2 linked regions of the Homo sapiens genome follow. The protein of the gene in region 1 purifies or fractionates together with the protein of each later gene. This does not show direct contact. Each region holds a gene or a part of one and is shown in the gene's direction. Other genes may lie near its edges.

Region 1 (6,981 bases):
CACTGTATCCCTCTCATCACTGCCTCCATAGTCACATTGCTGCCTCCTCTCCTGTCTGTGTCAAATTTCCTTCTGTCCTTCATCAGAAAACTTGCAACTGCACAGAGAACCCACCTGGATGTTCCAGGATACTCTCACTCTCTCAAGATCCTTAAAACACATTTGCAAGACCCTTTGAAGCCATTTATAGATTCCAGGGATTGGAACCTAATATCTATGAGTGCCAACATTCAGCACTTCATAACTGTTTTCATGTATGTTGGTCTTTACACCTTGGTATGACTAGGATCTATCACAGTGTAAGTACATAGTATGTCCTCAATAAGTGACATGTAGACATAGATGCAGAACTATACAGCATCTAGGCCCTTTGCTCACGTTCACTGGGATACCTTCTTTGCTAAGGCTTCATTTCCCTAGGCCAGAGCTATTTCTTTCATGTGCTAATCTGTGGTTGGAAGGATCTTTTACTCATAAATTAGATCAACTTCTAGGTTAGAGAAATTAAGCAAAGGAGTTTTCGTCCTTGTACCACTTCTCCTGAGTTTCAGTGAGGCAAAGTAACCAAAAACACTCCTTTCAAATTCCATACCTCCTACGTTATGGAGCAGAGGGCGTAGGAAAAGTGGATGGGTCCTGGCTGCTCAAAGACTTCACGGAATGTGAGATTACAGAGTGGCAGAGTGACAAGTATGGGCTTCATGAAGAGCGCTGTCATCAGTCTCCCCGGGCTGGTTTATTGCCATTCTTTGGCTGTTTATTTTAAACACAGTTTTCTTAGTAATTTAAGCTCCTAAATTCATGGCTACTGCTTCAGTGACCATTTCCCCATCTCGAGTCATTTAAGTTCATCACAGGGATTTTTCTGAAATGAGGCGGTTTCTTTTCCAGTGTTCTCAAATCACAGTCACCTCCACCCTCAAGAATAAGCCAGCACTCATCTGGAAAGATAATTCGGTAGCTATGTAATTGCTTTTTTCTCAGCTGTGGAAATCTTTCCCAATTAAAGTGGAAAAAGTTACTTGCAATAAAAAAAGTAAACAGGTAGATTACTTTGCACAATTAATCATTGAAACAGTAAACTGTCTACTGTATTGTAATTGTTTACTTCTACGTCAGTCTTTTCATCTTTTTGCTGGTTAGAGCCCCCAGAAATCAGAATGAGATTCCATGACGTTTATTCAACCTTTAAATATTTTTTCCATTCTCTCTGTGTTCCAGGAGTAGTGATAAGAGCTGGTGATGTAAGGGTAACAAAAACAGACTCATTCCCTGCCCTCATGGAGCTTGTACAGTCTGGTGGAGGATGTAAACACTAATCAGGTCATCACACAGACAAATGCAAACTGTCAGTGGTCTCACATGCCAAGGCTGTTTATATACATGTAAACAGTTATGAAGTGCTGAATGTTGGCACCCCAGCCAACCCACAATGCTGCTGGCAGATCAGTCTAAAACACTGGACTCAATGTGCCACCCCTCACTTAAACGCTTTAACTGGCTCTCCCATGGCCTCTGGGGCAGAACTCACCTCTGGAGAAGATGCTCTTCAGCTGTTCCTGCCTCATTTCCTGTCCTCTCTTCCAGATGCTCAGGGGCCCCCAACTACAAGCTCTGTGCTTTCAGGGTCTTCTGTCTTTGTACGCAGTTCTCTCTGCCCAGAAAACTCTTCTCCCCACCTCCACTTGCAAAATCCTGTCCATCCTTCAGGCTCAGCTCTAACGTTACTTGAATGTGATGCCTGTCTTGACTGTTTAGCAGGCTAAAGCTGTCACTCCCTGCCTGTACTACCACAGAACATTTTGTACAAGCCACCATAACTGCACTTATCCCAGTGAACTGTGTTTGTTTGCAGCAAAACACTGTGGTTAGGAACATGGACCTTGAATTCAGACTGACTTGGAAACCAAATTCTGCAATTTATTGTGTGGCCTTGAAAATCATTCCTTCTGGGTCTTAGTTTCCTTCCTAATTTTGGCAATGAGGGGCATAATACCTAACTCATTAGCCTGTTGTAAAGATAAACCAGATAATGTGTTTAATGATGGAGCACGATGCCTGGTCAACAATACTCAATAACTAATGGTATTATCAAACTTGAATGTGCCAAATGCAAGGACCTAGGACTACATTTTGTCCACTTTTTTTTTTTTTTTTTTTTTGAGACAGAGTTTCGCTCTTCTTGCGCAGGCTGGAGTGCAATGGTGCGATTTTGGCTCACAGCAACCTCCACCTCCCAGGTTCAAGCGATTCTCCTGCCTCAGCCTCCCGAGTAGCTGGGATTACAGGCATGCACCACCACACCTGGCTAATTTTGTATTTTTAGTAGAGATGAGGTTTCTCCATGTTGGTCAGGCTGGTCTTGAACTCTCGACCTCAGGTGATCCGCCTACCTCGGCCTCCCAAAGTGCTGGGATTACAGGCGTGAGCCACCACAGCCGGCTGATGTCCATCTTTCTATCCCAGTTGCTGGCCATAGTCAGTCGAAGTTTCTTAAAATGCATAAATGAAAATACTATCATAACTTCCTTTACTTGAAGACGGGTTAGAGGCTTATTTAGTTTGCCACTAATAAGGGCTTTTTTGTTTTCTTTTGAGACAAGGTCCTGCTCTGTCACCCAGGCTGGAGTATAATGGAGTCACCACAGCTCACTGCAACCTTGACTTCCCAGGCTCAAGCTATCCTCCCACCTCAGCACCACTTGAGAGGTGGTTAATTTCCCATAGAGACGGGGTCTTTATGTTGCCCAAGCTGGTCTCCAACTCTCCAATTCCTGGGCTCAAATGATCCTCCCACCTTGGCCTCCCACAGTGTTGGGATTACAGGGCTGAGCCACCACACCCAGCTGATAAAGACATTTTACTGAAATGCCAAAAATTCCACTGATTTTACATCTCCAATCATATTAATCCTTTCCCTTTGCTCAACCAGTCCTGAACTTACACAGGTAACTGTTTGAGGTCCTATTTTGAAGTAGTGGTTTCTGCTAAATGATCTCGTCACAATTTTAGTCTTTACTGCATGTACATCAATTCCAGTCTTTACATAATCATGTGGAACACGGATTATATTTTCCTTTCTCATATGAAAAGTAATAGCGTGCATGTGTATAGGATTTACGTTTCAGGCTTTGTGGGCTTTAAATCCTTTGACTCCTAACCCAAGTGACTTTTCTAAGATCACAGTTCGTGGGTGGTCAAGCATATTAAAACTACTGCAAACTCTAGCGCAGTGTCCTGGACACTGGCCACAGCATCGCATTATCCCCCAACAGCCTAAATTCCTTGAAGGCAAGGTTCTCTCTGGCTTCCTCTGCAACGTTCGCAGCATGCCTCAGAGACTCGGTGAGCTGGGCCGGCCAATGCATTTCCTCTTCCGTCCATGTAATTCCACTAGAGGAGCAGAGGGCAAACTACGTTCCCATTAAAGCCACAAGGTTTAAAAACCTCTAACCTTGGAAAAGCACACTTCAACCCTCTGCACACCAAACTTCTCTACTGTGGTTTCCCCTCTGCCGCTTTCTCCTTGGCGTTCCCCGATCACTGCCTCTAGGGTCTTTACAAGGGACAGCGAACGTAAGGTTTCGGAGCTGGCTTCGCCCCCTTCTATTTACCGGGGGCTGGTCATCCTTCGGGCCAGGCTGACTGTCTAGGGGTGGCCCTCGGATACCTGGTCCCCGCAGGTGACCCCCCTCCCTCCCACCGAGGAGGAGGGCGCGTCCCGCTCGCTCCGTGGAGACGCCGCGGAGGCGCACACGCCTCACGCCTCCTCGCAGAAGCCACAGGGGCTGCGGCTCTTTGTCGCGGCCACACCGGAAACGGCCCGGAGCGCGCGCGGGGCGGCCGCCGAGGGTCGCGGCGCTAGGCGGGGCCGCCGGGCCCGTCCCCCTCCCCGCGGGGGCGCGCGAGGCCCGGGCGGGGCCGCCCTCCCTTCCGGGGAGCGGGGAGCCGCCGCCGCGTCCGCCGGGCGGCTCCCACCCCGCCCCCCGCAGCTCTAGGTGACGCGTCTCCAATAACAGCTCGCCGGGAGCCGCAGCTCGGGCACAGCCGGCGGCCGCGCCCCGCCGCCACCATGAGGGCCGAGGGCCTCGGCGGCCTGGAGCGCTTCTGCAGCCCGGGCAAAGGCCGGGGGCTGCGGGCTCTGCAGCCCTTCCAGGTGGGGGACTTGCTGTTCTCCTGCCCGGCCTATGCCTACGTGCTCACGGTCAACGAGCGGGGCAACCACTGCGAGTACTGCTTCACCAGGTAGGGCGGCGGCGGCGGCGGCGGCGGGCGGGAGCCGGGGGCGCCGAGCGGGAGGCTTGGACGGCGGCGCCAGGAAGTGCGTGCGGCTCGCGGGGTCCTAGCGCCGGCCCTTGGGGCGGGGTGGGGGGCGGGGAGGGGAGGAGGCCCCGCGCTGCGGCCCCGCGCTGCAGCCCCACGCCAGGCGCCACGTGCGAGAGGAAACAGGACCGGTGCCCCGCTGCACGCCCTGCACTGCACGTTTTCAGAGTTGCTCACGCTGGATGCGCAAACCCGGGCGTGCAGGTTCCTGCCCTCAAATGTGGGCTCCGAGCCAGGCTTGTTCCAAGCCTGGGCACTCACTGCCCTCCCGGTGCATTGGCAGCGGAGCCCCAAATTTGGGCAGCCACGGGCTGTCACCTTTAACTTATGCTTCCTGCGGTGTGTTCTGTTACCCACAGTCCAGCCCTGCCTCAGATTGGCCGTTTCTTCCAAGGAATTTAATGACTTAGTATATGTCTTGTAAAGTACGCTTACATGTTAAAGTACGCTTACATGGGTGTTTGGAGGGACGCCAGTGGGCACTGACCACACCCCCTGGATTCTGAGGTGCTGCGACGATGAGTTGCAGTGTCCAGTTTCGGTTTGGGATTAGGAAAACATGGTCGCAGGAAGGGATTGGGCAAGATGTGTGGTTGCTAATGGTATTTAATTGTAAGATACCATATGTATATATGTGTCTGTGTTTGTATATATGATGCATATACATTTGCACACACCAACACATAATTATATCCTCAACTCTTATGAGAGTTTCAGAGCTTAAAGGCACATTAGAAATCACCAATTCAGTCTTGTCTTTCACTTAATGGATGAGAAAACTAAAGCCCAGAGAGAAAGTGGAGTTACCTTTATCCATTCACACCAGTAGTGAAGGGAGTGAAATCTGGCCTTATTCACTTCTGCCTATTTCTCACTGGTTAGGTGCTCAGTAAATTTACTAAGGCAGGAGGCATGGCATTGGGGTTAAGTTTATATCAGGCCTTCCAGTACTCTGAGTAGAGACCATGATTTGCTTTCTTTGAACCTCAGTTTCTTCATCTTTGAAATGGAGATTCCTGGGCTGGATTAAGCTGACCTGCGGTCCTGCAGGGACCTTTTGAGTACAGGTCTCAAGTCCAGCATACTCAATCTCTCAGACCTGTGTGCCTCATTCTACAATAAGACGTAGCAAAAGAAGGGACAAAGGCTAAATATTGTAGTAATCTTGCCCAGACTCCCTGCCAGAACTGTCTTCCGCTTGGGGGGACCTGGAAAGGAACTAGACACGGAATCATGCCGTGGGCAGCTTAAGGGCTGTATGTGATGTGGCTCTTTGAATTGGTGAGCCAAGAGCTAAAGGGTCATGGCACCACTTTGCAACGTTTGAGTGAAGTGAGCATTGGGTTTTCCCAAAGTTAAAAAGGCTGCTGTGACTGGTCCCTTGATCTTCTGAGCCTTGCTGTGGCTCGGAGTCTGCAGCAGCGTGGGTGTCTGCAGTGGCAGGAGCAAAGCAGGTCAGGCAGCACAGAAGGAGCCTCCATCAGGGATCCTGGCAATTCCTGGAAGCCATCGCCTAAGACCATGGATGCCAGGCACATAGTAGGTGCTTACTTTATATGGGTAGTTGCCAGCCCTGGCCCCCAGTGAATGAAAGATCAAATCCCTCTGGATTTAGAAGGGATGAGAAGAACTGAGAGATGCTTCTCTTTAGCTTTAAGTCTCCTAATTGTATCTACTACGCATACCCCCAACCTTAGAACATTAATGGATGGTCAGATGCAAGTTCACAAAGCATTCAGCCTGGATTATTCTGCCATATGTGACAGTTTGCTGCCTCTTTTGTTGTTAAATTTTTCTGATTGACATTTATTAGTGTTACTCACTGTTGCCTTGGGTCCCTCACCAGGGCTGCAACTTGCAATGGGGTGTTATTACAACTTGCAAACCACTTCTCTGTTTGATTTCCCTGACCTTATGTCAATACCCGTAGTTTATTTCCTCTCTCTCCCCAAAGAATTATTTGAAGTCAATTAAAATAATACAAAAGAAATAATATCCATGATACTTATGCAATTAGAAATATCCTTGTACCCTACTTCATGATTTCTATTAAATCTGAATCATTTACTATTAGTGGTTAGGTCATCTGATAGATTCAGCATCAGTTCCTCTGTCAGCAATTTGTATATGACTTAGGACAAATCAGTCTGTCCAGATGTATGAGGGGAACGTGTATTTTCCTCCATAGGGCCTCAAAGTATAGGAGTAGAATTCTGGAAATGTTCATACTTACAGGTCAAAATCTGCTGCCTGCCCCAGCTCCACACACCCAAAAGAAAGCTACCCCTTATCCTTTCTTTTGCCAGAAGTTTAACATAAACAATACTGCTTAAGATAAATGAATGACCCAAGAATTTCCATGTCATACTAATTGTATCAGGATCTAACTTTTTTTGAAGAAAAGAAAAGTGATTTCTTTAGGTAGGAATAAGTATATGCTATAAATTGAGAAATAATGGAAAATGTCTTAAGTCTCAACAGAATGGGATTCTTACGGTCAGGGCAATTCAGACAAAGGTTTGCTTTGGGGAATTTTTAATTTGTATCACATTTCTCAGTCTGGTGGGTGCCATTGGAGAACATGCGTATCTTGCCTGAACTGCTAGAAGGCAGCTCCTAATAATATTATATAAAGTTTTTCCACTTGGAAGCTGTCCC
Region 2 (7,039 bases), on another chromosome or scaffold:
TTCTCCTGCCTCAGCCTCCCGAGTAGCTGGGACTACAGGCGCCCGCCACCACGCCCGGCTAATTTTTTTGTATTTTTGGTAGAGAAGGGGTTTCACTGTGTTAGCCAGGATGGTCTCGATCTCCTGACCTCGTGATCCACCCGTCTCGGCCTCCCAAAGTGCTGGGATTACAGGCGTGAGCCACCGCGCCCGGCGGAGAGAGGGTTCTTGAGTAATCTACCCTGGCCGTCTTTAATTCCCATAGTCTCCCCTAAGTACCCCATCAGTTTTCCGTGAAATATAGACTCACCATTGAAACCTATGAATCAAATTTATCTTTAGCACCACTTCAGTTAGAGAGATCCTTAATCGTGCAATCGCTGCATCTATTTCTTTCAAACGGCTAGCTAGCTGCTGATTTGTTGGGAATTCATCAGGCACTCAGCCCGGGAGGGTTCTGCTGTTATTTGATTTGCCTTGGCTGTGGGGAATTCTGTGCTCAGAAGCAAGGACTGGAGCAGTGAAGTCATTGTCCTGCCTGGTGTTGTGACATCACTATGGCTCAAAGGAAACAAGGGTGGGGCAGGCAAAACCAGACCATCTGAAGCATCTTGCTGGCTTTAAAACTTTGCCTGATCAATCAATGAGACTCCTTTCTCAAGTTGAACTGCATTGCGAGGTATTGTTTGGAGAATTGAAAGGTGTAAATGAATATAAGACTGCATGGGAAAATGTGTCTCCAAGAGTAAGGAAGGAGACGTTTTTTGTTTGTTTGTTTTTTGTGAAATAGTAGAAAGCACTGAATATTCCTTTTGTAGAGAAAACTGTAATTTTTTAGAAGGGCCATTTACAAAATTAAAGAACAAGAAAAATGAGTATATTTTTATTTATATATTGAGGCAACATATTTCTTACTGTTCTTTGTACTAAAACAGCATTCTTTTTAAATTCTTGATTTAGGTTATTAGTAATGTCTTTTAAAAAAAGTATGTGGTCTCTCTAAAGATGCAATTTACTTATTGGGTAGGCAATGTTCTCATTTATTTTTAAGTGATGTGATTGCAGTTGGCAATAGGAAAAAATGGAAAAAGGTGTTTCATAAGTAGAAGATATCTGCAGTGATTTGGAGTAATTGATTTCCATTTCCATTTTTGTTTTATGTACTAATTATTTTATAATTTAGCATTTTAATCCTAATTTAGAATTCTAGTGCAGAGATGATCAGAGACATATTTCACCCAAATTAGTGTTGAATAAATGATAAGACTGAAATTCGGAAGCAATAAAGTATATTTCATGTTTTCCTTTCTGAATTTATAGTAATATCAGCATAAAAAATGAAGAACCACAGAATGGCTGCAGATGTTCCTTGTCTTTTCCATGACTGACATTTTTCATGTGAGTGTATTATGTATGTAGGAGCTCTGGGCAGTTCTTTCTTAACTATGTAGCAATTCCAGAGCACAGTTTCAAAGCATAAAGAAGAAACAAATTGGGAAGAATGGCACAAGAAGACAAGTTGAAATTAGATGCCAGAACTGCAGATTACTTGGTTGAAATGTCTTTGGTGTTGCATTTTTAGTCCTTGCGATGATTGGTTAAATTGCATACTTTGGAATTGTAAGCTTCTATTAGCACCAATTCTTTTGTAATTTGCAGTACAGAGAAAAAGCTGACAACTTAATTTTTAGATTGCTGACATTTTGATACATTGTTCTTATAACCCTGCCTTACAAACTAAAAACAGAGAGAGAGAGAGAGAGAGAGAGAAAGCAGAAAGGTCTATATTAGACCTAGAAAACAAATGTAATATTTAACCTGCCTTGAGTATATATTTTTCTCTCCAGTTATATTGGGTGGGTGCTTGATGAGGATAGGGAGTTATTTCTCTTCAGGTTTCTTTCCCAAACCAAGTAAAGGTCTAGACACTTAAAGCATTCAGTAAATACTTACGAAATTGTATAAAAAATGGGGCCATTTGTAACTTACGCTTTACTACCAAAAAAAAAAAAAAAAAAAAAAATCTTGGAGAAAGCTTAAAAAGCACTGCTGCTTTATTTAAAAATGAGAATTACCAGACTCATGTATGTAGTCATTATTTTTAATGGCGTGGTCCTCTTCATAACAAGGTTGTTACCTCTGTCTGTAGCTCAAATTGGTAGATCCTAGAGGTTTTGCCATATCAGGGAAGAGAATTCTGCAGGTACCAAGAGAAAAGAAGAATGGTTTCTTTGAGGGAAGAACTGCAGGGAGTCGGTTTCCTTTCCTGCCAGCTCTAATTGGTGTCATGGAGGACATCAGTGTGGAGGGTGTCCTCTGAAGAGGGGAGGGATCAAATGGTAGGGTGACAAAAGCTGAAAAGGATTAGTGCTGGGAGATGATATTGATCTCCTAGCATTCAACTAAAGAGAGGAAAACTATTTTCTGTTTTAGCTCTCTCTTCTTTGGTCATTTTTGTACATGCCTGTGTTTACATCCTCAAATAGCGAGTTTCTTTGTATTTGATTCAAGCCCCAAATTTCATCATTTCTAAAAGAAAGTTATTTTTTCACATTTAACATCTCTGAAATTGGGATATGTCTTACATGGCTCTCAGCCATGTTGCAGAGAAAAAGCTGGCAACTTAATTCATTGTTTGTGAATATGCATCAAAAATTGGACATTGGATGTTAGTGGATTGGAGAAAATCCTGGAGACAGTAATGGAGCACTCTTAAGTGATACATTTCTAGTGCTCGTGGTGACCCAAGTTGATATTGTGTGGAAAAGCATAGACAGCAGTAACTCTTAGTTGACGTGCAATTTGGTAGAGTTGGATTCTGAATATGTAAGAATTTTTGGGAACACCTTGGCCAATCTATTTTGTTTATATTTTCTTTATGCGTTGAATAACTCAATCAGAGTTCTTTAGATAAGAAGAAAATGAAAATTCCAGTTTCTAAAAATGTGTGAGTCATAGCTTAATTGGCAGAGTGCTATACAACATGATGTTATCTCTTATAATCAGTGTCATGAATCTTATGAAATATGGTTTATCATTTGGCTATGCAATTTTTTGAAATGTACTTTATAATATGTAATGCTTATTTTACACTGTCCATTCTGTGTATCAGTGATTGTTTTTCTATGTATTATTGATTGTTTCCTATAAAAGGATCCTTTTATAGGGAAAATCTATTGAAAATTCTTCATTTCCCATTTTGACTTTCCATTTTGGCCTTGGGAAGATGACTGGATTTTGATAGAGACTCTCAATTAGTCATTGAGAAGACATTCCAGATAGGACATTCCAGAAGTCAAGAGACCTGCCTTTAGCTGGAATATAGCCTGTATGCTGGGGAGTAATGGGAGGTGCATCTAAGTAGGGAGTGTGAGGCCTGATTGTGGAAGGTTTTTGGATATGAGACTAAGGGATATTTGGGGCTTTGCTAGGTAGTGGGGAGTTATTGAAAGTGGTTGAGTAGGGAAGAAGAATATTTTTTCTGGTGATAAGTGTAGGATGAGTTGGAAGAATAGGAATCTGGAGACAGATGGTCTTTAGTTAATGGAGTTATCCAAAATTTTGCAGAAATTGAATGTGATGTTTTTTTCTCTCAATGATTGATATTTTGGCAATTCATTCCATCTTTTTGTGGGAGTATTTAACTGAGGATTAAATACTACTTTTGGATTGTTTAAGGTAGAAAATGAGATATACGAAATATGGGAAGATTTTCCTTATCCTTTCAATGAATGTATCTCAGTTATTTGAGATATTAAAAATAATACATTCTCACTTTAAAATATAGTCTAACAATACAGAAAAACCAAAAAAGGCAATGTCATTATCTACCTTTCTGAATGTATTACGTATCAGAGTGGAATAGGACACACCTGGGTTGGGCTCTCGGCCTTGCTATTTAATAACTATGTGGCATGGTTCTTTTAACTTCCTAGAGCCTGTTTGCTCGTTTATAAAATGGGCATAATGCTTATATCTGAAGGATATGAGGATTAAATGATGTAATACATGCAAACACTGAGCACAGTATCTGGTATATCACAAGTGCTTCATAAATAGCAGTAGCATCATTTTGTACATATACAGACTCATATGTAGATTACATAATATTTTACATGAATAGACTTCTGTCTTAAATACTTCTATGTAACCATTTTTTGTTTGTTTGTTTCGTTTGTTTGTTTTTTGAGAACAGAGTCTCACTCTGTTGCCCAGGCTGGAGTGCAGTGGCACGATATCAGCTCACAGCAACCTCTGCCTCCCGGGTTCAAGTGAGCCTCCCAGGTTCAAGCGAGTCTCCTGCCTCAGCCTCCCAAGTAGCTGGGATTATAGGCAACCGCCACCCTGCCCAGCTATTTTTTTTTTTTTTGAATTTTTAGTAGACATGGGGTTTTACCACGTTGGCAAGGCTGGTCTCGAATGATCCTGACCTCAAATGATCTGCCCGCCTTGGCCTCCCAAAGTGCTGGGATTACAGGTGTGAGCCACCGCACCAGGCCAAATTTTTTTTTTTTTTAAATGTAACAGTATGTCTCGGAGGAGCTTTTTCATGCATGCAAATCTATACCCACATCATTATTTTTAATGGTAAATAAATATTTTCTTTTGGTCTTGTGCAATATTGATAAAGGATCATTACCTTAATGATGGTGTTGATGTGAAGCCTTGTTGTCCAGCCCCTCTGCCTCCTTCTGCTTGCTGCCTACACTTCATGACTCTCTTCTAATATACACATCAGGAGGCTTGTGGTAAAACAGGATATTTAAAAAAATTAAAATCTCTGATGATTATTATGTATATCTCAATGTTGTGTGTGAATATTGAGTTCTAACAAACTAAAACAAGCAAATTTTCACCATAGATTTCCTGACTTTTTTAAATTTAGATTTTAATGTCATCTCTTTATAGAGGGGCGAGCTCATCCAGCAAAGCCTAACCTGAGTTCCTGGGTGCCCATCATTCTCCCATGTGCCTCTTGGCATGCCTCGAGGGACAGCAGATGCAGCAGTCTGGACCTGAACTAGACTCTCCAGAATCAAAATATCCAGGGTCTGGGATAGTTTAGTAGGTGTACGGGGTCACTGGGCTCCCAGAGATGGAAAATATTAAGCTTCCTTTGATCTCTCTCTGAGTTCCCAACCCTTCCTTCGTCCTCAACAACAGAATGGTAACAAATGTCATATTCCATTCACAGATTTTATGCCACCTCGTCAGGGATGTGGGCTGCTCTGTTATGTTATTCACAATCCCATGATTTTGACTGATCTTGGATTTACTTGGAATCCAGTCTTCATTCACCAATTTGGGGAGAATAGCTTTATGATCCTGAAGGTGGTGCTAGCTGGAATGGTGCACCCAGGCTTCTGTGAGATGATGCCATCGGGGCATCTAGAGGTCTCAGGCTGGCCCGGACAGTTGCATATTTCTACGTAATTTTTTCCTAGAGTTACTAACATCCCAGAGATATAGGGAGTTTTGGGTAGTTTCATTACAGAGAATTATTCTTGATGAATTTTGGTGTTTTATACCATTTTGTGCTACTCAGTGACAACTTTTATTAACTTTAGAAGGAATATGCTTACTGGCTAAGTATAAGACTTGGAAAATAGAGATTGACTAGGTTGTCTGCTCAAGAAGTCTGGAAAACTTTTCCTCTGAATTCTTGAAATGAGAGCAGTAATTCATTGGGGGGAGTTATATTGTAGAACAGGGGTCCCCAACCTTTTTAGCACCAAGGACCTCCATTTTGCTTACCTCCTGCTGTGTGGCCCTGTCCTTGGCACAGAGGTTGGGGTTTCATGGAAGACAGTTTTTCCATGGACGGGGGTTGTGGGGGATGGTTTCAGGAAGAAACTGTTCCACTTCACATCATCAGATTCTCAGAAGGAATGCACAACCTAGATCCCTCACGTGTGCGGTTCACATTCTCACATTCTCACTCAAGAATGTGAATCAAATGCCACTTCTGATCTGACAGGAGGCGGAGATCAGGTGGTAATGCTGACTCACCCACCGCTCACCACCACTGTCCTTGGCCCAGTGGTGGGGAATCCTTGTTGCAGAATAAAGAAAATACAAAGAGCTAGAGAAGATACAGATGGAAACATCTGCTAACCTTGAGCTAGGTAACTGTGGGAGGAGTACTCTATTTCTCTAGGCAAGGTTCCCCAGAGTGAACAGATGACGATGCTGCCTACCTCCAGGTTGAAATGAGATCTGTGTTTGAAGACATCTAGAACCAGTCTAATGAGAGTATACACATAGTACATGTTTTCTCATTTCAGTAGTATATGCTGTTGTCCTCTTTGCTTGTTTTTAGGGACATGTCTTAGTAATTGTAAGATCCAAAGATGACCCTCAGGATGAGTGTAGAATTTTGTGACATTCCACCACAAAACCCGTAATCCAAAAGATGGCCCTCTATGAGAATGCAGAATTTTTTGAGTATGAAACTCCAGATAACAGTAGAGGTTTGCAAAGAATGAGACACAGTGGTTATACAACAGAATTACCTGATGAGTTTATTAAAAAGGAATTTTTGGGGACCAATCCACGGATTATCATCTAATAGATCTGCAGTTGGATCCAGACCTCCTTATGTCCCGACAAGTACTTTGGTGAAATCTGATCCAGGTGGTCCCAGGACCACATTTTGAGACACACTGTCTTAACGACTTTTGTCTTAATGACTTTCCAGCTTCTTCACTATTGTCAAATGAGCGTTTAACCTGGAAAGAAGATATAATATAAATAAATAGTACTAAGGTTGAAGAAAATGTTTAGCATAGAGCAAAGAAACCTGGCCTTGGACTCAGAATGCTTGGGTTTCTTTTTTTCTTTCTTTTTTCTTTTTTTTGAGACGGAGTCTCGCTCTGTCACCCAGGCTGGAGTGCAGTGGCGAGATCTCGGCTCACTGCCAGCTCCGCCTCCCAGGTTCATGCCATTCTCCTGCCTCAGACTCCCAAGGAGCTGGGACTACAGGCGCCCGCCACCACGCCTTGCTAATTTTTTGTATTTTAGTGGAGACGGGGTTTCACTGTGTTAGCCAGGCTGGTCTCGA

What was found. Proteins that work in one complex are often made in the same cells at the same time.
Region 2: the proteins of SMYD2 (region 1) and EPB41L3 purify together in Homo sapiens (affinity purification with western blotting; 2 studies listed by BioGRID and IntAct, with this or other methods). This does not show direct contact.

The regions. Positions count from the first base shown.
Region 1 is NC_000001.11:214,277,183-214,284,163, forward strand, and holds the start of SMYD2 (N-lysine methyltransferase SMYD2), read left to right. Parts: upstream 1-3,976; 5' UTR 3,977-4,072; coding exon 4,073-4,245; intron 4,246-6,981. UniProt on the Homo sapiens protein: Protein-lysine N-methyltransferase that methylates both histones and non-histone proteins, including p53/TP53 and RB1. Specifically trimethylates histone H3 'Lys-4' (H3K4me3) in vivo. The activity requires interaction with HSP90alpha.
Region 2 is NC_000018.10:5,533,959-5,540,997, reverse strand, and holds part of EPB41L3 (band 4.1-like protein 3), read left to right. Parts: intron 1-573; exon of another isoform or gene 574-658; intron 659-7,039. UniProt on the Homo sapiens protein: Tumor suppressor that inhibits cell proliferation and promotes apoptosis. Modulates the activity of protein arginine N-methyltransferases, including PRMT3 and PRMT5.